Linked DNA regions of Homo sapiens. The protein of the gene in region 1 interacts with the protein of each later gene in a pairwise test. Each region holds a gene or a part of one and is shown on either strand. Other genes may lie near its edges.

What was found.
Region 2: the proteins of CLN8 (region 1) and USP40 interact in a two-hybrid assay, tested with the Homo sapiens proteins (one study listed by BioGRID).
Region 3: the proteins of CLN8 (region 1) and ZUP1 interact in a two-hybrid assay, tested with the Homo sapiens proteins (one study listed by BioGRID).
Region 4: the proteins of CLN8 (region 1) and CYB5B interact in a two-hybrid assay, tested with the Homo sapiens proteins (one study listed by BioGRID).

Annotation. Positions count from the first base shown.
Region 1 is NC_000008.11:1,773,784-1,780,810, forward strand, and holds part of CLN8 (protein CLN8), read left to right. Parts: exon of another isoform or gene 1-1,413; intron 1,414-6,466; coding exon 6,467-6,784; 3' UTR 6,785-7,027. UniProt on the Homo sapiens protein: Could play a role in cell proliferation during neuronal differentiation and in protection against cell death.
Region 2 is NC_000002.12:233,556,772-233,563,798, reverse strand, and holds part of USP40 (ubiquitin carboxyl-terminal hydrolase 40), read left to right. Parts: intron 1-995; coding exon 996-1,063; intron 1,064-2,532; exon of another isoform or gene 2,533-2,639; intron 2,640-2,765; coding exon of another isoform or gene 2,766-2,795; exon of another isoform or gene 2,796-3,056; intron 3,057-3,874; coding exon 3,875-3,988; intron 3,989-6,779; coding exon 6,780-6,944; intron 6,945-7,027. UniProt on the Homo sapiens protein: May be catalytically inactive.
Region 3 is NC_000006.12:116,665,751-116,673,173, reverse strand, and holds the start of ZUP1 (zinc finger-containing ubiquitin peptidase 1), read left to right. Parts: upstream 1-4,407; 5' UTR 4,408-4,608; exon of another isoform or gene 4,609-5,029; intron 5,030-5,966; 5' UTR 5,967-5,981; coding exon 5,982-6,540; intron 6,541-7,423. UniProt on the Homo sapiens protein: Deubiquitinase with endodeubiquitinase activity that specifically interacts with and cleaves 'Lys-63'-linked long polyubiquitin chains. Shows only weak activity against 'Lys-11' and 'Lys-48'-linked chains.
Region 4 is NC_000016.10:69,455,592-69,462,618, forward strand, and holds part of CYB5B (cytochrome b5 type B), read left to right. Parts: intron 1-3,501; coding exon 3,502-3,530; intron 3,531-6,838; coding exon 6,839-6,929; 3' UTR 6,930-7,027. UniProt on the Homo sapiens protein: Cytochrome b5 is a membrane-bound hemoprotein functioning as an electron carrier for several membrane-bound oxygenases.

The DNA.
Region 1 (7,027 bases):
AACACCGGACTTCAGGAGTCACTCGGCTGTGGCAGAAAATAAAGTTCTTGAAAGGAAAGCAGAGGCGCTCACTCACATCGATGCCCTAAACATCAATACCACATCAATGTCCCAAGTGGTAAATAGTGACTAAATTATTAATACATCCCACAAGATGGTGTGCTTGAGGTCATTAGTGTATTTTGAGAAATAGATTAATAGTTATCTTGTATTTTATTTTTATTACAAGTTCTTTAAAAACAACAAGAAAGACGTGAGTCTTTCTGTCTCTCCAGTCCTCAGGGGAAAGCAGTGTTGGATTTCTCCAGGGTTTTATCTGTGCTTCTCCTGGAGCCAGGTGTGGGGACAGCGTCTCCAGCAGTTCTCCCTCCCCTGGTGTGGTGGTGGAGCCCAGCCTCCAGGAGGACAGACTCAGCGAGATTTTATTTTGAAGTTTGCACATTCTCTAAAGCTTTTAGGGTGCTGTTTGTGTAGAATGGAGAAAGGGTTATTTAAGTATTTACTTCTAACCCTGCTCATGTTAACTGTATAAAGCCAACAGACCCTAATAAGAGAAAATTATAACCTAAATTAATATAGCTCAGGGCCAGTATGTCTACATAGTTCTATTTTGCTCTAGTTGAAATACTAATAAATGCAGTAAGAAAACACTATGTCTAAAATGTTGAAATTCTTTGAAATTCTTTTAAAGCTGATAGATTCTTGCATAGTAGTAGGGCATGAGGATTCAACATTTCTCCCCCATCAAGGTCTGATTTGATCAGAACTAAAGGATGTAAAGACAAAATATTACCATCAATTTAGGATGGGGGTCTAAGTCAAGCACAGTGGCTTATTCTTCGTATTTCTGTCTTAGATTTGGTTCTACTATTTATCCACAGACTCACTAGTTCATAATACAAATGAGGTGATATAAAAGCACTGTCAGGCCAAGTGCGGTGGCTCACACCTGTAATCCCAGCACTTTGGGAGGCCAAGGCAGGCAGATCACTTGAGCCCGGGAGCTCAAGACCAGCAACATGGCAAAACCTCGTCTCCACAAAAAATACAAACATTAACTGGTCATAGTGGCACACGTCTGTAGTACCAGCCAATTGGGAGGCTAAGGTGGGAGGATCGCCTGGGAGTTCAAGGTTACAGTGAGCTGTGATTACGCCACTGCACTCCAGCCTGGGCAAGAGTGAGACCCTATCTCAAACAAAAACACAACCCGCTGTCAGTTTTTATATATTTTGTATATATACATGTGTGTGTATATATATGTATGTATACAGTCGACCTTCTGTATCCATGGGTTCTGTGTCTGGATTCAACCAACTGTGGATCAAAAATATTTGGGAAAAATTTAAAATAATATAACAATAAAAAATATAACAAATAAATACCAATAAAATGTAACAATTTTATATAGCATTTACATTGTATTAGGTATTATAAGTAATCTACAGATGATTTAAGGAGTAAGGGACAGTGTGCTTAGGTTATATGCACATACAAAGCCATTTTATATAAGGGACTTGAGCATCCGTGGCTTTGGGTATCTGCAGGGAGCCCAGGAACCAGTCCCCCAAGGATACTGAGGGTGACTGTATATTTAAGTATAGATGTAACTGCCGGGCTCCAGAGCTTTGCATGTGTTATGTCACAGATTTTGTTCCTGTAGATTTTGCTACTCTTCTCAAAGCCTTTGGTGACTTTGACTACAAAAATTTTAGTGCCTTAGTAAAACCAAAGAACTCTTCGGTTCTCAAGCTTTGAGTTTTCTAAACTTAAGGTAGTGATTGCATTCTGATATTACTATTGGTAATTTAAGATGACTACTTTCAGTAAGTGAGGAAAATGGTGGAGGAGAACTTTTTGTGAATTGTGAGGGAATGGTGAGTGAATAAAGACTGAGCTCGCGAGAGTCTGGGGCTGAGTGCACAGTGTACTGTACAGTTCATCACTGTGTGGGGCCTTCCAGCTACTGTAGAGGATTCTGATGTTCAGAACATCGACTCTTCAGTGTTTTGTCTTCAGACACACACTCTTTTCACTCCTGTTGATACTGTACGCTCTCTTGAGGAGCAATGAGCACTCTTGCAGGCCCTGTGCCAGGTGCCGGGTCATAACAAAGACGATTCTCAGTCTTCCGTAAGTGGGAATCTGTGGGAGGCACATATGCATGTGGTGCGGCACACACGACAGAAGATTCTGGAAGCTGAATCTGTGAGGGGCACACGTGTGTGGTGGTGCTCCAGCACACACGATAGAAGATTCTGCAAGCTGAGTCTGTGAGGGGCACACGTGGGTGGTGGTGCTCCACACACATGATGACAGAAGATTCTGGAAGCTGGAATCTGTGAGGGGCACACATGCGTGGCAGTGCCCCGGCACACAAATGATGACAAAAGATTTTGGAAGCTGGAATCTGTCAGGGGGATACTTGCATGTGACTGTGCTTCTGTTCACAGAGAAGGTTCTGGAAGCTGGAATCTGTGAGGGGCAGCTGTATGTGTGGTAATGCTCCAGTACACATGTGATGACAGAAGGTTCTGGAAGGTGAACTCTGTGAGGGTTGGGTATGCATGTGGCCCCGCTCCTGTACACACACATGTGATAACAGAAGGTTCTGGAAGGTGAAATCTGTGAGGGTTGGATATGCATGTGGCCCTGCTCCAATATACACACATGATGATAGAAGGTTCTGGAAGGTGAAATCTGTGCGGGCAGATGTGTGTGTGGCCTTGCTCCAGTACACACACACACGTGATGACAGAAGGTTCTGGAATCTGGACTCTGTGAGGGGCGCACGTTTGTGTAGCGATGCTGCAGTCCATTGCGTGGCAGAAGGAGCATTGTCTTTCCTTTGGTTTTTGTCAGCTCTTTGTTTACTTGATAAATGCTTGAGTGTCTTCAGTTTGATAACTAGCAAAGGAAAACAGCGTGTGAGACTTCTGGTGTCCTTGCGGCTCCATGCATAGGTCTGTGCCTGACTGCAGTGCACCCACATGTTCACTCGAACAGGGGTACTTGGATTGTCTTAGCCACGCTGTTCATTTGGCCTCAGACTGAGTCCTACTGAAGTCCCATCATCAGTGGAAAGGGCTTGTGAGCTGAGTTTGTCCACGCAGCAGAAGGGTGGGCAGCAGTCTGGATGGTTTACACAGACACGGTGAGAGACGTTACCCGGACGCAAAAGAGTACACAGCGTGTGATACCGTTCCATGTACAGTCATACGTTGCTTAACGACGGGCTGTGTTCTGAGAAATGTGTCCTTAGGCTATTTTGTCATCGAGTGGCCGTCATAGAGTACCTTTCTACATGTCTAAGCCAACTCCACACTCGGCTCTATGCGACAAAGCCCATTGTTCCCAGGCTGCATACCTGTACAGCATATGGCTGTACTGAATACTGTAGGCAAGTGTAACACAACTGTAAATATTTGTGTATCTAAACATACCTAAACATAGAAAGGTATAGTAAAAATACCATGTTAAAGATGAAAAATGGCACACCTGTGCAGGGCGTTCACTGGGAATGGAGCTTGCAGGACTGGAAGCTGCTCTGCGAGAGTCACAATGAGTGGTGAGTGTGAGGGCCTAGAACGTCACTGTACTCTCCTATAGACTTTATGAACTCTGTGTACTTAAGCAATGCTAAATTTATATAAAAAAATTTCTTTAATCATAAAGTAACCTTAACTTACTGTAACATTTTTACTTTATAAATTTTTAATTTTTTAAACTTTTCCACTCTTTTGTAATAACACTTAGCTTAAAACACAAATACATTGTGTGTATATATATATATTCTTTATACCCTTATTCTGTAAGCTTTTCTTAATTTTCGAAACTTTTTTTTAAATTGTTGAAATCTAAGATGCAAATACACATTCATCCAGCCCTGCACAGGGTCAGGATCATCCATATCACTGTCTTCCACCTCCACACCTTGTCCCACTGGAGAGACTTCAGGGGCAGTAACAGACATGGGGCTGCTACCTCCTATGGTGACAGTGCCTTCTTCTGGACCCTCCTGAAAGACCTGCCTGGGGCTGTTTATAGTTAACTTTATTTTCATCAGAGAAGGAGTACACTCCAAGATAATGATAAAAAGTATAGTATAGTAAAATAGTAAATGATAGGAATTGTTCAGCTCCATTATAATCTTGTGTGGAACCACTGTCTATACACTGTGCGTTGTTGACTGAAATAAAGGCGCTGAGCCCTGGGCACTGCTGTAGGTGCAGTTGTCCAGCCTCACCTGGGTGTGGGCCCACCTGGTACTGCCGCTATGGGTCTGAGGGAGGTGTGAGATCGAAAACTTGCCTGTGCCAAAGTCCAGCATTGTCCTTCACCACTTATGGACCTGGTGGTTGTGGCCAGTTGTCAGAGTGACTATACTGTTTACCACCCAGACAAGGATGTCAGGGACTGCCCCAGGCAAACCAGGATCTGCAGTCACCCCAGGGTCTGAGAACCAGCTATATTTGTGACTTTTGCTTTGGACATATCAAAAACCTCCAAGAACTTGTAGCCTAACTCTATAATTTCACAAGTAAGAAATAAGTTATAGTATTAACTCTTCACATTTCATTTCAATCCCATGTCACTTAACCATCCGGAACTGACAGCCATAGGTTCTTCTGGTCTGTGGGTTTCTCCCCTGTCCCATTCAGTTTGGAGGCTCCAGGCTTGTTTTGGATCCTGCTTCCTCTGCTCTTCTTCCTGAGTGTTCACTGTGCCTCAGCAATGCTGAGTGCGGTGAAGCATGTGGTCCTGGCCCACCTTGAGGTGGCCCCAACCACAGGTGGGAGTGTTTCATTTGCACCTGGGGTTGGGGTGAACTAAGTGCTTGGTATGTTTGTGGAAAGCCGCACTGGCGGTCTCTGAAGGCGTGTGTGTGCATGAGGGTGCCGTGATGCACATGCGAGAGCCCTGAGGTCCCCTCTGAGACCTGGGAAGGACTCCCGTGACAGTTGTATGAGGCAGGCTGGGTTACTCCATTCCGCTGGCCTTTCTCTTCTAATTGTCCTCACATTAATTTTTTCAGTCCAGACTTAGAATAGATGCTCTTTGACTCAGGATGGGGTTACATCCCAATAAGCCCACCATAAGTTAAAAATATTGTGTCAGAAATGTGCAGCCTCCCGAACATCATGGTATATAGCCTGGCCTGCCTTTAACATGCCCAGAAGACTTGGATCAGCCTACGTTTGAGCAAAATCATATAGCACAAAGCCTGTTTTACAACAGAATGCTGAACAGCTCATGTAATTCAGTGAATGCTCTACTGAAAGTTGAAACAATGGTTGTGTGGGTACTTGAAGTACAGTTTCTACTGAGTGTGTATCATCTTTGCACCATAAAATCAAACAATTGTAAGTCAAACCATTGTGAGTAGGGGACTGTCTATAACAGCTAATATACCTGGGGCTTTAAATATTCAAAAACACCAGAAGAACGTGTTAGAATTTTTTATTTTATTTTATTTTTTTGAGACAGTCTTGCTCTTTCTCCAGACTAGATTGCAGTGGCACGATCTCAGCTCAGTGCAGTCTCTGCCTCCCAGGTTCAAATGATTCTCATGACTCAGCTTCCCAAATTAGCTGGGATTACATGGTGCGCCACCATGCCTGGCTAATTTTTTTGTATTTTTATTAGAAATGGGGCTTCGCCATGTTGGCCAGGCTGGTCTCAAACTTCTGACTTCAAGTGATCTACCCACTTCGGCCTCCCAAAGTGCTGGGATTATAGGCGTGAGCCACCGTGCCTGGCCCAAGTTAGAATATTTTGCCGGGGAGGTATACTGTATTAGTCAGCTCAGGCTGCCACAGCAGACTGCCATAGACTAGGCAGCTGGAATAGCAGAAATTCCTTTCTCACAGTTTTGGAGGCTGCAAGTCTGAGATCAAGGCACCAGCAGATTCATGTCTGGTGAAGACCCACTTCCTGGTTTACATGGCCACCTTCTGGCTGTGTCCTAGCATGGAGGAGGGGAAGGCTCTGGTCTCTTTCTCTTCTTATGACACTAATCTCATCATGGGGCCTTACCCCCATGACCTCATCACTTCCCAGGGTCTAGGTATGGGAGCTTGATATACCTGTGTCTGGTTTTGCCAAATAAGTATTGTTTATTTACTTAATATGAGAAAATTCAAGATAAAACAAAGATTGAAGGGATACTGAAAGAAAGGTTGAATTTATCATAGCTTTAGGGAGCAGAAGCCAAAGAGCAAGAGGAGCAGGAAAACAGCATGAGCGGGCAAGGGTCAGCCCTGCTGGCCCAGGTGCGCCCACAGAGCTGGTGGCCTCCTTTCAGAATGAAGTCCCAATGAGAGCAGAGCCCTGGGGAGGAAATTCTTTTGCTTTGAAATGAATTTGTTTTGTTTGGTAAGTAAGGTAGCAAATACCTTTTTGTGATGTGAAGAATGAATTTTGGCAGTTTCGCATTGACTTGTGCATTTGTCTTCTCTCCATGCAGGCGGGCTGGTCCGAGTCTCTGTTTTGGAAGCTCAACCAGTGGCTGATGATTCACATGTTTCACTGCCGCATGGTTCTAACCTACCACATGTGGTGGGTGTGTTTCTGGCACTGGGACGGCCTGGTCAGCAGCCTGTATCTGCCTCATTTGACACTGTTCCTTGTCGGACTGGCTCTGCTTACGCTAATCATTAATCCATATTGGACCCATAAGAAGACTCAGCAGCTTCTCAATCCGGTGGACTGGAACTTCGCACAGCCAGAAGCCAAGAGCAGGCCAGAAGGCAACGGGCAGCTGCTGCGGAAGAAGAGGCCATAGCTGCTCCAGCCGGGGCTCCGGGGCGGCAGCAGAGCTGGCACACCGATTCTGGGAAGCCCCGCGAATGATGGCTTTTGAATTAATGAGGCAGTGAATGTTTTGTGTTTACTTCTAAGGGAAATACTAACTTTCTTTCGCATTAGTATTAATTTTGAAGTAGCTACAAAGTATTTTTAAGAAATTATAATTTTATGACTGTCTGGCAGGCTCTGTCAGTTTAGCCGCGCCGGACCGTGTCAAGCA
Region 2 (7,027 bases), on another chromosome or scaffold:
TGCACAATGTGCACTGCTTGTATAGCTTAGCCTGAATCCTGATGGTGACTGACAGGGAGGTATAATTTGGAAAGAATAAGGACTGTCAGAGAACTGGCGGGGGAAATTTTGGAATAGTATTTTAAATAATAGGGCTACATTGGGTTCCATTGTACTCCATTACAATGTAGCTGAGAGTACTGGGAGATTATTATAAAAGTTTTTGTATGGTTTTATGCTTTAACTTGTAGATTTGTAGTTCATTTTTGCCGAGTCCCAGCACTTAGAAAGAATATAACATTCATTAACAGTAAGCACTAGGGTAGCAATAGTTTTTCAATAGGGAGACACATTTATCCCATTCCTTGTATCCCTAGAGTATATCAGAGTTTCCCAGTAAGAGTTCCTACCTAGGCTCGGATACAGACTTCTCAAAAGATTCAGGTATGCCCCATTGGGTGGCACATCACCTAGATGTTGGGTGATAAAGAAATTCTGGAGACTCGCATGGGGTTGCCAACTTCTTTTTCCAGATAAGACCACTGCCATCTGTTATTACCTTCAACACGGAAAAGACATTTTCACACCAAAAAAAAGGGCATCTCAGAGTAAAAGAGGATCCTTCCCACGAAAGGATGTTTGTTAGCCTTACATGTGGCAGGAAAACTGCAACACTACTGTATTTCCTGAGATTCTTGGGCTTTTGGGACCTGATGCCATAGACAGTGGGAAGCCATGAAAGATTTCTGATGTTACTGTTTTTAGTTTTATGCATAAAGATTATTTTCCTTTCCTAGAATTAGGAAATGCTGAAGCCTTAGCATGACACTATTTTCTTAGAGTCACTGGTTAAAAATGTTACAAGAAAGTAAAGTGTATAGAGTAAGGTATAAATATTGCCACAATCATATTTCTGAATCTACTTGATTTTACTTAAAGGTGGTCTTGGCTTTCTAAAACAATTTTTTAAAATGAAATGATGTCATTTGCATCTCTGATTCTACCTTTTTCTTTAGAAGCTCTATTTTCTCTTGGCCCAGAAGAGCTTGGTTTGTTTGAAGATAAGGATAAACCCGATGCAAAGGTATTTTTATTATTATTATTATTATACTTTAAGTTTTAGGGTACATGTGCACAATGTGCAGGTTAGTTACATATGTATACATGTGCCATGCTGGTGCGCTGCACCCACTAACTCATCATCTAGCATTAGGTATACCTCCCAATGCTATCCCTCCCCCCTCCCCCCAACCCACAACAGTCCCCAGAGTGTGATGTTCCCCTTCCTGTGTCCATGTGTTCTCATTGTTCAATTCCCACCTACGAGTGAGAATATGTGGTGTTTGGTTTTTTGTTCTTGCGATAGTTTACTGAGAATGATGATTTCCAATTTCATCCATGTCCCTACAAAGGACATGAACTCATCATTTTTTATGGCTGCATAGTATTCCATGGTGTATATGTGCCACAGTTTCTTAATCCAGTCTATCATTGTTGGACATTTGGGTTGGTTCCAAGTCTTTGCTATTGTGAATAATGCCACAATAAACATACGTGTGCATGTGTCTTTATAGCAGCATGATTTATAGTCCTTTGGGTATATACCCAGTAATGGGATGGCTGGGTCAAATGGTATTTCTAGTTCTAGATCCCTGAGGAATCGCCACACTGACTTCCACAATGGTTGAACTACAGTCCCACCAACAGTGTAAAAGTGTTCCTATTTCTCCACATCCTCTCCAGCACCTGTTGTTTCCTGACTTTTTAATGATTGCCATTCTAACTGGTGTGAGGTGGTATCTCATTGTGGTTTTGATTTGCATTTCTCTGATGGCCAGTGATGATGAGCATTTTTTCATGTGTTTTTTGGCTGCATAAATGTCTTCTTTTGAGAAGTGTCTGTTCATGTCCTTCGCCCACTTTTTGATGGGGTTGTTTGTTTTTTTCTTGTAAATTTGTTTGAGTTCATTGTAGATTCTGGATATTAGCCCTTTTGTCAGATGAGTAGGTTGCGAAAATTTTCTCCCATTTTGTAGGTTGCCTGTTCACTCTGATGGTAGTTTCTTTTGCTGTGCAGAAGCTCTTTAGTTTAATTAGATCCCATTTGTCAATTTTGTCTTTGGTTGCCATTGCTTTTGGTGTTTTAGACATGAAGTCCTTACCCATGCGTATGTCCTGAATGGTAATGCCTAGGTTTTCTTCTAGGGTTTTTATGGTTTTAGGTCTAACGTTTAAGTCTTTAATCCATCTTGAATTGATTTTTGTATAAGGTGTAAGGAAGGGATCCAGTTTCAGCTTTCTACATATGGCTAGCCAGTTTTCCCAGCACCATTTATTAAATAGGGAATCCTTTCCCCATTGCTTGTTTTTCTCAGGTTTGTCAAAGATCAGATAGTTGTAGATATGTGGCATTATTTGTGAGGGCTCTGTTCTGTTGCATTGATCTATATCTCTGTTTTGGTACCAGTACCATGCTGTTTTGGTTACTGTACCCTTGTAGTATAGTTTGAAGTCAGGTAGTGTGATGCCTCCAGCTTTGTTCTTTTGGCTTAGGATTGACTTGGCGATGCGGGCTCTTTTTTGGTTCCATATGAACTTTATTTTCTCTTGGCCCAGAAGAGCTTGGTTTGTTTGAAGATAAGGATAAACCCGATGCAAAGGTATTACATCTATGATTTACTGGGGTGTTTTAGCGTATTCAGAAAATTTTTTTTAAAGAAGGAATTAAGTGGCTTGTTCACAAAGCAATAATTTTATTAATTATCAAATATGCTCTTTATTTCCAGAAAGTGACTTGGCCTATACCCTATGGGTAATGGAATTTGCCTTCCGAGAAAGAATCAGTTTTCCAAGTACAATACTGCTACTGCTTTATAAACATGTAACACTCTTTACTATGCTTATTCTTTCTTCTGGTGAAGGAAATATTTGCAGAACATCCACATTAGCTTCCCCCAGAAGTCTATTTAAAGCACTTTTTTTGCAACAATACCGACCTCTCCACCCCACACAAAAAAAAATAGAGGCTAGTATTCTTTCAATTTGGTACTCTGGAAATAAATTGAGTAATGAGTTAATTATTTTGTTTGTTATTGTGGTGATATTTAAAGTGCATATCTAATCATGTTCCTCCCTGCTTAAACATAACTCAAAAGTTTCTTACCATGTTCAGGCTCAAATTTGTACTTCTTAGGAGTCTTTCATGATCTAGCCCAGTACTTCTCAGGCTACCTGTGTGGCAAAGGACCTGTTTTTGTGTATTTCTTTTTATTCCCAATCTGTTGCAGATTAGCACTTTTCTAGTATATAATAAAAATGCCATGGGAATGTCAAATTGCCATTACAATTTCTAAATGCTTATTCTCCTTTAAATACTTAAAGTCTAGCCTACAGACCAGACTCTGAGCAACATTGCTCAGTCTGCCCCAGCCCTCACCACATCAAGTAAGGCAGGAACTCACTTGGAGCCAGGAGAAAGTGAGGCAGGGTGTGCTGAGAACTCCAGAGCGAGATACAGTATTGTGCCTGGAAAATTTCTACAGAGGGGAAATTGTGTGTATCAGAGGTATTTTAGAGAAATAATGGACTATTAGAAGAGATTCAAACTACTGTCAATCTGTAATCAGTTGAGTGGTTTATTAAGGCCTATTTGAGTTTTAATGTTTGTCTGAACCATATCAAGGTAGAAAACTCCAAATAACTATTATTTTTTAGATTGCATTATAATTTTCACAGAAGAACTGAATCATAATTAGTTTTTCCCTTATAATAGGATATTTATAAACTTTCTCCTGAATGAACTGGGAGATATAAAAAAGCTAGTATGCAGTTGTTTTCAAAAGCCTTAGTCAACACTTAAAGAATTCATTTAGAAATGTGTTTGTTTCTCATTCAGGTTCGAATCATCCCTTTACAGTTACAGCGCTTGTTTGCTCAGCTTCTGCTCTTAGACCAGGAAGCTGCATCCACAGCAGACCTCACTGACAGCTTTGGGTGGACCAGTAATGAGGTACGAGGATCAGCTCTTTAAGGAAGAGTTACCAGCAATAGAGGAAAGAATAAGGCTGGTTTAATGTTATCTAACTTCCTTTAATTTTGTCTTAGGGTCTCAACATATTGTTTGAATGTTTCCTTCTCACATTAAAAAATTACAAGCCAGAAATATATATTTTTAGACACTTGCTGTATACAGGATTTTATGAATGGCTGTGATTTGGGGCTGGGGAGAAGATTGGAAAAACGGGGAGAAGTACAAGAGCTGATTTTTACAATTTCTACCCTAAGAGTCTTTATGTAGTCTAGTTGAGATACAACACCGATTACATGGAGATTACCTACCATTTATATAGGAAACTGTTGATCAGTTTTTTAGTCTTTGACCAACAATAATGGATCAATTACATTGTAAGTAAATTTTTAAAAATTCTTTGTTTGTTATGTGCTTTGTGTTTGAATCCACATGTTCTGATTTGAAGGTTTGCTTCAGTCAAAAAAGTGAAATGGTTCTTGGCAGGTCTTTTTATTCCTGTCCTGACTTTCTCCTGACCTTCTCCATTTTCTTTATGAATCTTGTTGTATGTGGGCTTTCTCTCACTTTCCTGTTTGAGTTCTAAAAGGCATTCTACTGTATACGAACACTACACACTTGTCAGCAATGAGTAAAGGTGCTTGTTGCACATATTGATGAGCTGTTATAGCTATACAAATCCAAACAAATCCCAGTCTACCATTTTTATATGGAATAGATGGATGTAATCCTGCAAAGACAGGTATAGGCAACTGTCACAGAAGTTAAAGAGCAAACGATAGGAATACTGTTATATTGCCTTTAATGGTAAACTCTGAAGGGTAGTCTTCTAACCAGGAACACTTCTTAACTAGGTGATACTAACTATGTGATTAAGGAGGTAAGGCATGGACTTTCAAGCAAAATGGGGTATAATACATTCCCTAAACAAGTATGTTAAATTTCTGGTGTAGGGCTGGTATTTGGCGTTAATCCGATTAACAACAAAAACAAACAAACAAAAAAAACACTGTATTGAGATGTAATTTACATGCCACAGAATTCACTCTTTTAAGTGGTACAGTTCAGTGGTGCTTTCTAGCATATTCACAGAGTTGTTCAACCATCACTACAATCAATTTTAGAAAATTTTTACCACCCCAAAAAGAAACTCCATACCCGTTAGCAGTAACTTTCCATCCCCCTCAACTCAGCCGCTGGCAACCACTGACCTCCTTTCTGTCTCTATGAATTTGCCTATTCTGGACATTTCATAGAAATGGAGTGATCCAATAGGTGGTCTCGTAACAGTCTTCTTTCACTTAAAGTACTGTTCTCAGGGTTCATTCATGTTGTAGTATGTGTCGATACTTCATTCCATTTTATTGCCAAATGAGATTCTATTAGATGGATATGCCACATGTTTTTTGTTTTTTTTTTTTAATCTAGTCATTGGTTGATAGATTTTTCTTTGTTTTTGATAATGAGCTTCACTAAGTTGCTGGTTTCTTCTTAATGCTGTGAAAATTTTTTTTGTTTTTTGTCTAAATAAGATCTTGCAGAAAACCCTCTAGGACTGGACCTGCAGTGGTAGGAGAAGGTCTCTGTGGTACCTTTGCGAAGTGTAGGATTGTTTAGGAACAGAGCTTGAAAACTTCCACAAGTTTTCTATCCCATCATAGCCAGTGATATTAGATAAATTACATCCTTGAGGGTCTTGTATTTTAAAAGGCAAGATAGAAGTCCTCCAGCTTTCATCCACTTTATCTGCTGCTCTTCACACAAAACTTTTTTTTTTTTTTTTTTTTTTTTGAGATGAGGTCTCACTGTCACCAGCCTGGAGTGCAATGGCATGATCATAGCTCACTGCAGCCCTGGGTTCAAGGCATCCTGCTGCCTCGGCCTCCCAGGTAGCTGAGATTTTAGGCATGAGCTATTGCTCTTGGTTGAAACTTATTTTTGAAATTGTCTTCCCTTATTGCCTCTGCTTCTGAACTCTCCATTTGTTCCTCTCCTTCCTTTCTACTTTTTTGGTTGAAGTCAACAGTGACATCCCTGTGCCAAGTCCAGAAGACACTTCTCTGTTCTCAGCAGAAGGAGCTCTCAGCAGCACTCACCACCCTCCTTAAAGCCTCAGCTCCTCCTGCTTCCTGGGGCCTCACTCTCCTGGCCCTCCCCCCAGCTGCTCTTCCTCCTCTTCTCCACTTCTCAGTCTTGGTGTGCCCCTTGGTTTGGTTATAAATTTTTCTTAAGCACAAGTTCACACACAACTGCGTGACTCATAATGGATTAAAGCAAGTTCCATCAGGATTTTTTTCTCAGTAACACTGTGTTAGTCTTGTTTTAGTTGTTTTTACTTCAAAGCAGTACATTCTAGTTCTTTTCTATTGTTGATAATTCGGACTATTCACATGTGCTCTGATCTCAGTGAGGTGTTCCTGTGCAGACACTGCCAGCTCTTAGACACTGGTCTGTGCCTGGTATATCCCTCTCTGCTTTCTGTGGCATGGCCATGTGTGTGGTTTCCCACAAGAATAAATGCACATTCTGGGTGTCAAAGGAATTGAGTTACATGTACACACTGAACCCAGCCTGTTCATATTTTCATTTTTTAGTATAAATAAAAATAGGTGGTAATCTCTTAACCAGCTCAGCTTGTTTTGCTGAGTCATTCTTATATCTGATCTTCAGATTGCTTGATAAATCTTGAGTTTTTATTGACTAATGTTTGTTTTTTTAATGTTTTAAAAAATCTGAAGCCCGGAATTACATCTAAAAGTTACCTGTTTTGTAGGAAATGAGGCAACATGATGTGCAGGAACTGAATCGAATCCTCTTCAGCGCTTTGGAAACTTCTTTAGTTGGGACCTCCGGTCATGACCTCATCTATCGTCTGTACCATGGAACCATTGTTAACCAGATTGTTTGTAAAGAATGTAAGAACGTTAGCGAGAGGCAGGTAAATATGCCAGAGTATTTTAGTAATAAGTTATGTTGTAAATTATAATCCATGTAATTAAATGTATGATATATACCACACAA
Region 3 (7,423 bases), on another chromosome or scaffold:
CCAACCTCCTGCCTTGGAGGCAGAAATCACATATCAAGATGTGATGGGGGAAAAGGAGCAAGAGGTTCATAATTTAGTATTTAGCCTTCCCTATTTCCCATTTTCAGTCCAGTGCCTTTACCCTAAGGATAGGGTCAAGCCTTTGAACCCCCAGGATAGGGTTCATAGCTGGTTTTTTTGGTTCGTTTTCTTCATGAACTAAATCTGTAGTCTTCTATCTGGAAGGGAAAGAGGAGTCTCATGGCAACCTAGCTGTATTAGAGTTCTTCAGAGAGACATAACCAATACTATATACGAGAGGCAATTTATTAGGGAATTGACACATGATCACAGAGGTGGAAGTCCCACAATAGGCCATCTTGCAAGCTAGAGCACCAGAGAAACTGGTAATGTGGCTCAGTCCCAGCAGCCTCAGAACCAGGGAAGCAGAGGGTTTGGCCCCCACTCTGAGGCTAAAAGCCCAAGAGTTCCTGGGAAGCCACTCGTGCGAATCCCAGTGTCTAAAAGATGAATATGGTGCAATCTGATGTCCAAAAGCAGGAAGGAAAAAGGTGTCTTGTTCCAGAAGGGAGAGAGCAAAGAGAGAGAATTCCCTCTCTTTCCTGTTTGCCCCAGCCTAGCCCTCAGCTGACTGTATGGTGCTTGCCACACTGAGGGTAGGTCTTCCTCTCTCAGTCCACTGACTCACAGGTCAATCTCCTCTGGAAACACCCTCACAGATACAGCTAGAAACAATGCTTCACCAGCCATCTAGGCATCCCTCAATTCAGTCAAGTTGGTAGTGACGGGGTTTCACCATATTGCCCAGGCTGGTCTCAAACTCCTGAGCTCAAGCAATCTGTCTGCCTCGGCTTCCCAAAGTGTAGGATTACAGGTGTGAGCCACCATGCCTGGCCCCATACCTTCCACTTTCTTTGCTTCTTCCCTCATTTGGCGGGAGCTTCCTGGGAAATAATAAGAAATAATGTTTCAGGAGAAATTAACCATCACACTGGTGATGGAGAAAATCTAGAGTTGGAGTTCTAACTGTTCCTTATTCAGACTTTCAGTAAAATGATCCTTTATTTAGTTCCAAATGTCACCATCATTTTTAGAAGTATCTTGTGTTTAATTTCTGGAATTTTCAGATTTCTGGGAAGGAGGAGTGTATTAAGATGGAGTAGGGACCCTACTTAGGGGCCCGTGGGCAACCCCCAAGCATGGAAATAAAGGAAAATATTGAGTTCCTTCAAGGAAAATTCCAGGAACCTAGCTAGCGCTGAGAAATAAATGAGCAATTTGATAAACAAAAAGGTAATAGTAGCTTAAAACATTGGCCCAAAAAAGTCAGGAGATGTTTTATTCCCTATAGAAACTTAAGATAACATTTTAACATATGTCCCTGGGTTGTTTTCCAGAAACCCAGATCCCCCACCAAACAGATCTACTGTCCAACATGATTTGACCCCTGATAATGGGAAACTGAAGACTAAATCCTGATCGCTGTTCTTTGTTCTGAATTTCTTCCTGAGGGGCCTGGAGGAGATCACACCCCTGAGCGAGAGCTAATATTCTTTTCTGCTGATCCCAAATTTTTAGACAAAGCTTTGCCTCCTTAGCAAATCAAACGTCAGAAAATCTTTGAATCCACCTGTAACCTGTGCCCCGAACCACTTCAAGATGTCCAGCCTTTTAAAATCAAACCAACGTATAGCTTCCGTGTATTGATTTATGACGTCGCCTGTAACCTCTGCCTCCTCACCTTTAAAAACTCTTACCTGTAAGCAATGTGGGAGTTCAGGTCTTAAGCATGAGCTACTCAATTCTCCTTCCTTGGTGCCCTACAATAAATGCCTCAACTTTCTCTTGCTGCTATCCCAGTGTCAGTGTTTGGCTGTGCTGTGCTGGGCAAGCAGACCCCAGCTGCTGTGCTGGGCAAGCAGAAACCCATACAAGTCAAGACAGTATGACTTGACTTGGTTTTTGTTGACATCGGTTCTGAGTTAAGTTCGTTATTAATCATTCATCTTTTTTTAGCTTTCAAAGTTTTGTAAAATCTCATTAGCTGTTAGTAGTATTATTTTTATTTTCCTGCTATCATTTTAATAGATTTTGAGAGGCAGAGAAATATAAATTTACATGTTTAATCTTCCATGTTTGTCCACAAATTTCCAGAACGATTTTTTTTTTTGAGACAGGTTCTCATTCTGTCGCCCAGATTGGAGTGCAATGGTGCCATTATGGCTCACTGCAGCCTCAACCTCCTGGGGCTCAGGTGATCCTCCCACCTCAGTCTCCCGAGTAGCTAGAATTACAGGCCACATCACCACGCCCAGCTAATTTTTGTATTTTTTTGGTTGAGACGGGTTTCTCCATGTTGCCCAGGCTGGTCTGGAATTCCTGGGCTCATGCGATCTGCCCGCCTCTGCCTCCCAAAGTGTTGGGATTACAGGCGTGAGCCACCGCGCCTAGCCAATTTTTAAAAACATACTATTTATCATCAGATAACATCACCCTCCTATTTAAATACCTCACTAGTTTTCTACCAGGTCCTACATGATTTGGCCCCTGTCTACAACCCTAACCTCATCTTGTAATCATTTTTCTCCTTACCACATTATGCTCTGGTCAAAAAGTGTTCTTTTTGCTCCAGCCTTAGGCCTTCGTTCTTGTTATTTTATCTGTCTGAAATGCTATTTCCCCTGTTGGTGTAAGGTTTGTTCATCAGCACACTCAACCCTTCATCAAGACCTTTTCTAAACATTCGTATCTCTATAATCCAGTTTTCTTTTCTTTCTTTCTTTCTTTTTTTTTTTTTTTTTTTGAGACTCAGTCTCAAAAATCTATTGCTCTGTCACTCAGGCTGGAGTGTAGTGGCACGATCTCAGCTCGCTGCAACCTACGCCTCCCGGGTTCAAGCAATTCTCCTGCCTCAGCCTCCCGAGTAGCTGGGATTACAGGCACCTGCCACCACGCCCAGCTAATTTTTGTATTTCTAGTAGAGACGGGCTTTCACCATGTTGGCCAGGCTGGTCTTGAACTCCTGACCTCAAATGATCTGCCCGCCTCGGCCTCCCAAAGTGCTGGGATTACATATGTGAGCCACTGAGCCTGGCCAATCCAGTTTTATTTTCTTCATAGCACTTATCATGATCAGTTAATTTACTTTTTATTTCCTCTACCTCACCAGCATGTAAGCCTCAAAAATCCTGAATTTTGTGTATTTTGATTACTGCTGCAGCTCCTGTTGCAAGCAAAACGCCTTTCTAATAGACACTCTTTAAATATTTGTTGAATGAAATAAAGCCTGAATGACAAGATATTTGTGATTTTGGGCTAACATGGTGGCTCACACTTTGGGAGGCCGAGATGGGAGGATCATTTGAGGCCAGGAGTTCGAGGCTGCGGTGAGCTATTTTAGCCACTGTGCTCTGGCCTGGGTGACAGAAAGAGTCCTCCTCTCTAAAAATACATACATACGGCCGGGCACGGTGGCTCACGCTTGTAATCCCAGCACTTTGGGAGGCCGAGGGGGGCGGATCACGAGGTCAGGAGATCGAGACCATCCGGGATAACACGGTGAAACCCCATCTCTACTAAAAATACAAAAAATTAGTCAGACGTGGTGGCGGGCGCCTGTAGTCCCAGCTACTTGGGAGGCTGAGGCAGGAGAATGGCGTGAACCCGGGAGGCGGAGCTTGCAGTGAGCAGAGATGGCACCACTGCACTCCAGCCTGGGCGACAGAGCAAGACTCCGTCTCAAAAAATATATATATATACATACATACATACATACAAACCAAGATATTTGTTATCTTGTAACCTTGAGGAAAGAACCTGGTATCCTTTACCTTCGGTGCATAGCTGGGAGCTTGATACCTAGCAGCATTATAAACCCTTTATTGATACTAAAATAGAGTGCTACTCAGCAGGCCCTAGTGTAGACTGCTATTTGCCCCAGGACCTGCCCTGTGAACTCATTCAGATTAAGTATGAATGACCTCAGAGCCCGGTTTTCTCTCCTAGCAATTGAGTGGCAGGAAACTCGATGGGAGAAGGAAAAACTCGGAAATGGGAGGAATGCAAAAATGACTACATCTCTCAGGAGATCGAGACCATCCTGGCTAACACGGTGAAACCCCGTCTCTACTAAAAATACAAAAAATTAGCCAGGCATGGTGGCGGGCGCCTGTAGTCCCAGCTACTCGGGAGGCTGAGGCAGGAGAATGGCGTGAACCCGGGAGGCGGAGCTTGCAGTGAGCCGAGATCGCGCACTGCCCTCCAGCCTGGGCAGCAGAGCGAGACTCCGTCTCAAAAAAAAAAAAAAAAAAAAAAGACTACATCTCCCAGAATGCACTGCATAGAGACCGGCGTGGAGCGGCGCATTCTGGGATTACTTCTTTTCCGTGGGAGTAAGGAAGTGCTTTTGAATGAGGTACTGAGGGCCAAGGTGTTGGAAGTTCCTAATTCTTTCCTCGGTTAACTGTGAAACTCTGCGTATTGGGAAGGCCTGGCCTCAGTCATCAGGCCAGGAGAGGTACTGGACGCCGCGCACGCACTCGTCTGCCAGCGAGGCCCAAAGGGGAAGCCTAGCGGAGCTCAGTGTGGCAGCTGCTGGCCTCTGGGCCGGTAAGAATTGATGGTCCCCTCCCTTATTCCCCAGGCCCAAAGCTTTGACCCAGTTAGTGCCTGCTAGTTTCGTGTGCCTGGCTTGTGCCTTTGGCGCGGAACGTTTGGGAGACTCGGCCTTGCGGTCTTCTGACCTCACCCACCACGTACCTAGCTTGGCACTGGGTCCTTCATGCCTCTCACTCGCTTCCTCTGAGGCACCTGGGTACTCTCTTGTCTCTTACCCGCTTAATCTGAGTCCATGTCCAAGTTCATCATTCTGTGTCTGACCGTGTCCCAGCCACCGGAAGAGAAGAAACTCCGGGTGTGACATTAATCCCACTGGGGGCTCGGGAGAACTGCCTTCTAAAATCAGAGACTGTATCCATTTGTCTGGAGAGAAATGAAAAAAATAAGGACAATGTAGGGAGGTATTTTAAAGGTAAATTTATTTAAATGAAGTGATAGTGTCATTACTTTTCCTGTTTGATTTTAAATAGTCTTTAGCTGAACGATGACCTGTAGTAGGAAGGTGGTGGCGAAGTGATTGCTTTTTTTAAAATTATTTTTTTAACACTTTTATGTCAGTAGTCAGTACTTTATTTGTCCATAAAATCCAAAAATAACTACCTTTGGATTTTACAGTAGTCTTTGACTGAACCTCAGAGAGATGAGATTCCTTACCCAAAATGATGAATCTGAAATTATTACCCAGTTCTCTTGACTCTGGAATAAGTGCTTTTTTCTACTATACCACTTCTGCTTTTATTCTTGGGGCTGAGAGTACAGGCTGTGGAGCACGACGGGGTTGGCATTTTGGCTTCCACCTTTTTCTGCTTGTGGTGACCTGTCTGAGCCAGAATTTCTTTATGTGTAGAGCGATAATAATAGTACTTAAATTACAATAATAGCACTTAAATAGCACTTGATACATGTAAGACTCTAAGTTTACAGTGTTAAACTCTACTTGTAAGATGTGTTTATTTACCTCCTCAATATAATCAGCTTCAGTATTCAGTATTTAGATATATCAGTTGATAAATAGGTTTCTTCTCTTCATTTTTTTCTTACCTGATTTATCTTACCTGGACAATTTTTTAAACGTTATTTTTTCTCCACCTTGGGCCAGAGACATTTTTTGAAATATTTTATTTTTAAAATTACTTGTATTCATTATTATTGCCTTTTTTTAAAAAAAAATAAATGAAATTTTGGTTGATATTTATAAATAAGTTTTTGTATTTGAGGAACAGTAAGTACATTGAAAACTTCTTCATCAAAATAATCCAGCGTTAAAGACCAAGTAATTGTCTCAAATCATTTTATGAAACACATTTTTTCTTCAAATCTTTGAAACCTAATGTTATGTTCTTTTCTAGCTACTTGTCAATACCATGCTTTCCTGTAATATTTGTGGTGAAACAGTAACCTCAGAACCAGACATGAAAGCTCACCTAATTGTTCACATGGAAAGTGAAATTATATGTCCATTTTGCAAGTTGTCAGGTGTGAATTATGATGAAATGTGTTTTCATATCGAAACAGCTCATTTTGAGCAGAATACACTTGAAAGAAACTTTGAGAGGATAAATACAGTACAATATGGAACTTCAGATAACAAGAAAGACAACACCCTACAGTGTGGAATGGAAGTTAATTCAAGTATTCTTTCAGGTTGTGCATCTAATCATCCAAAAAATTCAGCTCAAAACCTGACTAAAGATAGTACTTTAAAACATGAAGGCTTCTATTCAGAGAACTTAACTGAATCTAGAAAATTCCTGAAAAGTAGGGAAAAACAGTCCAGCCTGACCGAAATAAAAGGATCTGTTTATGAAACAACATACAGTCCTCCTGAATGTCCATTCTGTGGAAAAATAGAGGAGCACAGTGAAGATATGGAAACTCATGTGAAAACAAAGCATGCCAATCTTTTAGACATTCCATTGGAAGGTAAAGTTTTCATTTCATTATAAATTATAAGTTTACAGCCTCAATTTAATATGTGGTATTTTAAAAGTTGGTTTGTAAGTCAGCTTACTACAGATGTGTTTTGAAATCCATTTTATGTCTATAACATTTTTCATTTGCTGTTACTGAAATATAAAAGTACATTATGGAAAAGAATTTTAATGCAGATATAAAATGTTTCAGCTACATTGAGAGTAGTTTTGGAACTTTCTGTCTAGTTTCCAGAGGGTATTCTTTTTATTGTCACTAACCCAGTAGCATCTGGACTGTCCTGGACTCTCTGACTTTGCATTGAGTTCTATTTTGACTCCATTATTCTGTTATGATTGGAGAACAAACTCTCTGTGATATCAGTTCTTTTAAATTTGTTGAGGCCTGTTTTATGGCTCAAGACACGAGCTATCTTGGTCATGTTCTGTGGATACTTGGGAAAAAAAAGTGTATTCTGCTTTGTTGGGTGGAATGTTATATGTATGTCACTAGATCCTGTTGTTTATGTTCAGATTATTTATATCCTTGCTTGTTTTCTATAGTAGTACTGTCTAGTAGTTCTATCAATTTTTGAGAAGGGGTTGTTGAAATCCCTGATTATAATTGTAAATTTATCTATTTTTCCTTTCAGCTCTGTCAGGTTTTGTTTCATGTATTTTGAGACTCTATTGTTGGTGTGTACACATTTAGGATCTTATGTCTTTTTCTTATTGTTGAACTTTAAGAATTTGTGGAGCCAGGTGTTGTGGCTCATGCCTGTAATCCCAGCAAGTTGAGAGTCCGAGGTGGGCAGATCCCTTGAGTCCAGGAGTTCGAGACGATCCTGGGCAATGTGGCAAAAGCTCGTCTCTTCAAAAAAAAAAAAAAAAACCAA
Region 4 (7,027 bases), on another chromosome or scaffold:
GAGATGGGGTTTCACCATGTTGGCCAGGATGATCTTGATCTCCTGACCTCGTGATCCGCCCACCTTGGCCTCTCATGTAATTCATGCCTGGGATTACAGGCATGAGCCACCGCGACTGGCCTTTTTGTCATTCTCTTAATCTTATCAAATTGGGTCAGTGCTTATGGTGCGACAAGGATCTGGGAAATTACTCCTCTATGTAGCTGGTGGAAGAGAGAAAAATCTACTTACGGTAGTGCTTCTTCAGTCTTCCTAGACATAAGAGAATGGTGTTTTCTTCTCTCTACCCTTTAGAAGCCTGCTGCTCTAGGTTTCACCACAATGTCCTTGGCTCAGAAAATTGTGTTGAGATAATTGAATATGACTTTAGAATTCACATTGATCTGAGCTTTTCGTTTTACAAACGAGGAAACTGATTTATAACATTGGGCTTGAAGATATTAGATATAATTTTAATTTTGAGCAGCTTTATAAATATTCTATTCAGGTATTACAAAATATTTCCTTTTTCCCTAAAAAGTCCGTCTTTTGTGTTTATATGTATATAAATATATTTATTTATTTTTGAGACAGGGTCTTGATCTGTCCTCCAGGCTGGAGTACAGTGGCACAATCCTAGCTCACTATAGCCTTGAACTCCTGGGCTCAGGTGATCCTCCTGCCTCAGCCTTCCCAGTGTTGGGATTCACCAGATGTGAACCAAGGTGCCCAGCCCTACTTATTTATTTTAGTGGGGAATTAAAGCCTTAATGAACCTTGAACTTGAGGAACCAGTTTTATTTAAACAGTTAATTTCCATGAGTTTTGAGCTAAAGTCAGAGTAGACTTAACAGCAATTTGTTTTAGAACCTATAATACCAAAACTCACAGCAATTTTGTTGTTTGCCAGTGTATTCTAAGCTTTTCGAAGAAAAAGAAGCATGCATATTAATTGCTTGGTAGGGGTTATGCTGGAAGAACTTTGGATTTGATTCACCACTTGTAACTAAAATCATAGTATTGCAATTATTACTTTCCAGGCCAAAGATTGAGAGCATTAAAATCTGGGCATGGACATAACCAGCTAGATATGCCTCAATACCTGAAGGGATAAATTAAAGTCAACTATAAACTGTAAGCTTTTCACTTAAGCATCCATTAGCTTTAGTCTAGTGCTTAGCTGTGGAAATGAAGACTGGGGGGAACTGTGCCTAGGGGAAGGGTGGAGGTGAAGGGAGGTTATGTGTTAATAGAACTTTTTTCATTTCAGTTTAAAAACAAGCGATTTGGTTTATTTCCAAATTTGGCTGAGAGTCCTGGCTGCTAAGAGCTGTGCCTTCAACATCTCTTTGATTATTATGTATTTGATTAAAAGTGGGGTCACTATGGTTTGCATCTACTTGGCTATCAGTATCCTAAAGGGAGTGTATGCCTCTTTCTCTTCTCTTTCCTTTAATGGGTTAGACAGGTTGGTCTTTTTTTTGCGTCCCCAGGGATGGATTGATCTTAAAACAGGCACATTTTGCAGTACTTAGTTCAAAGAACACCATATGTTTTAAGTTATTTATTGTTTAGAAATTTTTACATTTCAGCATAGTACGGTTTTGGCTGTCTTTGTTCTCTTTCTTCTTCAGTTGCTTATTACCTTTTTCTAAGGCTCACCCTACTTAGCAGAGATCCAGGGCTTTTGATTGTAAAAGAGGCTAAAAGCTTTGAAATTTAGAGAATCCATTTATATGAAGTATATGATTTTTACTCTAATTATAGATTAAACATCATAATACATATATTATGCTGTGATGCTCTCATATAAGCCTTTCAAATTATCCCTTTTAAAAATAGTAACTACATTTTTTGTCTATAAATCATTGGTATTTATGTAGCTAAAGCATAAAAGACCATGAACATTTTCTTGATGGAATTCAATTATTTCTCGGTTACTGTAGTGGAATATTTATTTTAAAAGGCAGCATTATAAATTAACTTGATGCACATACTACCATCGCTACCACTCCTACCTTCCGAATCTGTAGATAGTAACATTTGTTGTATTTTTCAAAGATTGACTTGTAACTCATTTTAATTAATCGGATCCTTACTAGACTAGTTGAAATGTCCCAGATAATGATAATCATTAAAGTCTTAAAGAAGTATAGAAGTATGTTAATATGGTTTCTTTAAAACCTTTCGTTTGCCATTTTTCTTGCCTACAGACTAATTTCTTTCAGGTTTGGGGCATGTATTCATTTGCATGACAGTGTTTTGGATATATGAAATTAAAACTCATTTCATGGACTGCTCTAAAGTATATTGGGGCCAATGTGATTGGTTTCTGGAAATTCTTGGAGATTATTGAAAACGGTGGTTAAGCAGAGCTAATATTCCATGTTCATACCCTGATATACTTCTACATTTTGCAAAGATGGTATTTTGGGCAGCAGCAACCTATGCTAAAGGGTTATTGTCCTCTGGCAGTAAGTTAGCAGGCCTTTTGTACTATACAGCTGGTTAATGGAATCAATAACTCGTTTGATACTTGAATTGAGTAAAAAAATTGTAATAACAGCTTTATCGTGATACAATTCACATACCATACAGTTTACCTATTTAAAATGTACAAATCAATGGTTTTTAGTGTATTTACAGAACTGTGCAGTCTATTTTAGAACAATTTCCTCACTCCAAGAAGAAACCCCATATTCATTAGCAGTCGTTTTCCATTTCCCCACAACTCGTCCTCCTCACACCAGCCCTAGGCAACCACTACTAATCTACTTCTAACTCTATTGATTGTCCTGTTGTGAACATTTTATGTAAACAGATTTATATAATATGTAGTCTTTTGTGTCTGCTTTCTTTCACTTAGGATAATGCTGTGAAGTTTGTAGCATATATCAATACTTCAGTACTTTTTATTGCCAAGATTTGTTTTTTAAGATTATTTTATCATTTTCTTTCCCTTGACTCCATTTTTTCTCTTTTCATTGTGAAATCAATTCTAAGGTCTCCTGTCATAATTATTATGATTTCAAGGAGTGAACCAGTATATTTTTGTGATCTACAAGCAATCATCTGTATGATCTAGAGCATTTCACAGTTGATCTACATGTTAGAAGAGCTTTTTGGACTTTAAAAAATGTTTTTAGAAAGTGTGATGTTAGCTATTGCCAGTGGCAAGCCCAGCTGAACCAGGTACATCATCATGACCACAGAGTAGTCCATTTCAATATAGTTTGTATCATTAACATTTTTTAACATCTAAAAAAGTTTAGGTCATTTCTATGCTTTCATTAGTGATTCTTCACTAGGAAGGAACCTAGTGAAGTGCCAGTATGTTATCAGAAATAAAATTCCCAGTCTATCCATTGCTTATATATTTGTAAACACCAAAATGCATGAAAGATGAAGTTCTGGTATCAGTTACAGGGTTGACATAGCTTGATCAAGAAAATGTACATGTGCTATGTTAATCTTCTTTCTTTTTGTTTGTTATTTTTGAATTTTTTTTTTTTTTTATTTCAGGACCCTTCAAAAAATGATACATGCAAAAGGTTAGTATCTCCTTAACAGCTTTCCATACGTTCAAGGTAATGTCTGGCAAGAGACTCTTCCATAAGTATATGTATGTAACATAACTTATGAGTGCAGTTTGACAACTAATTCTTTTTTGGCCCAAATCATTGCAAATTCAGTTGTTCCTTGACATTAGAAAAATTAACTTTTACAGTTTCAGCCATTTTGAATAATCTAAAAGTTTCATGCCTTGAGTCATTTTTTAATCTTATTGTGACATAAATTGGAATCACACTCAGTAAGAGGCCAGGATGCATGGACAGGTAGCTACTATTGGGTCAGCCTTTAGTCCCGAAGTTCAACCCAGCTACATGATTCTACTTAAAACTTAATCGCATTTACTTCTCACAACCACTCTGTAAGGTAAGTGCTATTATTACATATTGCAGGAGAAAAAAATACTACGGTCATATTTAGGAATTTGGGTTTTCTCAGGTTTATTTACAATATATTCCTTGGCATTAATATTAGTAATTCATTAGTATTAGCTCTGAAAGTTATAAATTGCCTTACCTTAAGTGCCTCTATCTAAAATGACTGTGGAATCCTTGGCTTGTACAGTATCTTTGTGGAGATTATATAGAGCTAGCCATTCTATTTTTTGGACATCTCGAAGTATTTCAGAGAAAGAAAATATGTCTTTTTTTCCCATAAAGTATCAGATCTATTACTTGAGGTAACGGACACAGTATAAAAAATTACAAACTATTAGTAAATTTAGTTTCCTTAATATTAAGGGCTTAGGATCAGCGAAATGCTGCATAAAAATTTTGAAAATACAAGCCACAAAATTGCAGATTTTAAACAAAACTTATGCTTATGCAGGGCCGGGCGCGGTGGCTCACGCTTGTAATCCCAGCACTTTGGGAGGCTGAGGCGGGTGGATCATGAGGTCAGGAGTTCGAGACCAGCCTGGACAACATGGCGAAACCCCATCTCTGCTAAAAATACAAAATTAGCTGGGCATGGTGGTGCGAGCTTTGGGAGGCCAAGGCAGGAGAATCGCTTGAACCTTGGGAGGTGGAGGTTGCAGTGAGCCAAGATCGCTCCATTGCACTCCAGCCTGGGCAACGAGAACGAAACTCCATCTCAAAAAAAAAAACCAAACCTTATGCTTATGCTATAAAACTTAGACTTAAGCAAAGCATAAAACTGATAAAGAATTATTAGGTAGAAGATATAAAGAATTCCTACAAATCAGTTTTTTAAAACCTCAGTAGAATATGAGAAAAAGATTTAAGCACTTTACAGAAAAGGAAACACAAATGTAAACATATGGAAATGAGGTTTAATCTCATTCATCATTAGTGATATGTGAATTAAAATCATAGGTATATTTCATACCTAACCAGATTGGTAAAAATTAAAAATTTTGCAAATAAGAGTTGGTTGGAAAGTTTATCACCGACTCTTAAGCACTCCTAGGGTAATGTAAATGAGTATAATCACTTTGGAAAACAGTTTGGCATTATCTAGTAAATTTGATAGGATGACTTAACTTTTGACCCAGCAATTCCATTTCTAATGATATACTTGATAGAAATGTGTGCCCAGGTACACCCAGAAATATATGCAAGAATGTTCATAGCAGTGTTATTCGAGATATTCAAACATCAGAGACAACCCTAATAAATTGTGGTATATTCATACAATGGAATACTACAAAACAATAAAAATAAAGGAATCACAAACATGTAGTAGTCTAGATGGATCTCCAAGAAGAAAAATCTGTCTTATGGTAGGAAGTTATTGTTGAACCTGAATCTCCTGTGATGCAGTATAAATGTATTTCCTCTGGTTCTCTCCTCAGTGGCAGTTAAGTATTAGGAAAGATTATGTGAGGATTGGTGTCAACCATTCTCAGTCTTTTGTACTAAAGAAATTTTCTGGCCGGCGTGGTGGCTCATGCCTGTAGTCTCAGCAAACTGGGAGGCCGAGGTGGGTGGATCACGAGGACGGGCTGAGACAGAAGAATGGCGTGAACCCCAGAGGTGGAGCTTGCAGTGAGCCAAGATCGCGCCACCGCACTCCGGCCTGGGTGACAATGAGACTCCGTCTCAAAAAAAAAAAAAAGAAAGAAAGAAAGAAATTTTCTCCTTCAATGTTTTCTCAAGGATCCTACTTTTGGATTCTTCAGTCTCTTGCGGTTACTCTTCAAGGAGTCTGAATTCATTACTCTTATCAGGAGATTACTTCAGAGTTCCCATGTGCATATTGCTGTTATACGTGCCATATTGCTTGGTTTTGTAAACAAAGCTACCTGGCTGATATTCTAAACTAGTCCAGAGTAGCTTTCTGCTGTACGTAAGCATACAGAGTGCTAGGCATGTTTAGGCAAAGAGAATCATTTTTCTTATGAACTTCAGCTCGTTTTATTGACTTCAAAACCTTTTAATACCAAGACTCATATGTCTTAAGTAGAGGGGCAGCCGGGTCATTTGGATCATGGAAGAATTATACCTTAAAACTAGTGTGCTAATAAGTTCTATTAAAGAATTATTATGTTAAGGAGAATGATGACTGTTCTGAAGCTCCTAAGGAAGGTCTCTTGCAGTACTTTTGAAGCTGCCATTTGCTTCACCCTGTTAGAACTGTATATGCTTTGTGTGTATGTGTATCCTTATTAGTGTCCAAACTTAACTAGGGATTAAGAGGATGGGTTTGGAATCAGACTGTCCAGCTGCCTTTCTAGCTTTGGGATTTGGGGTGCAAAGCTTATATTTCCCTTGTATGAGATGAGAATAATAACCCTATTTCGTAGGTTATCCTATTTCATAAGGATTAAATCTTTAAAATACATATGAAGCAGATAGGATATTTCTGGTAGTTATATTAGATATGATTACTTCCAAATTTATATTGGGATGGATATGTTTTTATACATATATGAAATGTCACATACATAATGGTGTTTTTTCCTGTTTAAAAATGTTTAATTGTAGAATACGTGAAAAGCAAAAGCACAATGAAGAAAATGTGAGAGTATCCATAATCCCTAACTCAGAAATAACCACTATATGACTTTGTAGAAACACATATAGAGGCATTTAAAGACATCTTATTTGATATCATACTATTGGTTGTTTTTAACCTTTTAAAAAATTACTTTGTAATATTGTCACTCCAATTCAAATATTTTTCCCCAACTACTTTGTGATAAAAGCAGTTAAATTTCCCAAAGTAAATAAAAACTCCTTGCCTATATAAAAACATGTGAAAGCTGAAAGATAGTGAACATTTGGCTTAAAATATTAACAACTTTATTGCTTTCTCCCCCTATTCCTAGTTGCTGGGCATATTGGATTTTACCCATCATAGGCGCTGTTCTCTTAGGTTTCCTGTACCGCTACTACACATCGGAAAGCAAATCCTCCTGAGGAGGCCTTGCTGAAGTTAGAAAGTGCATCCACTTTGGGGCGAAAACTAGAGACTTGCTTGGGGGCTGCAGAAGTGCCCTCTCCTCGAATCCTGCCAG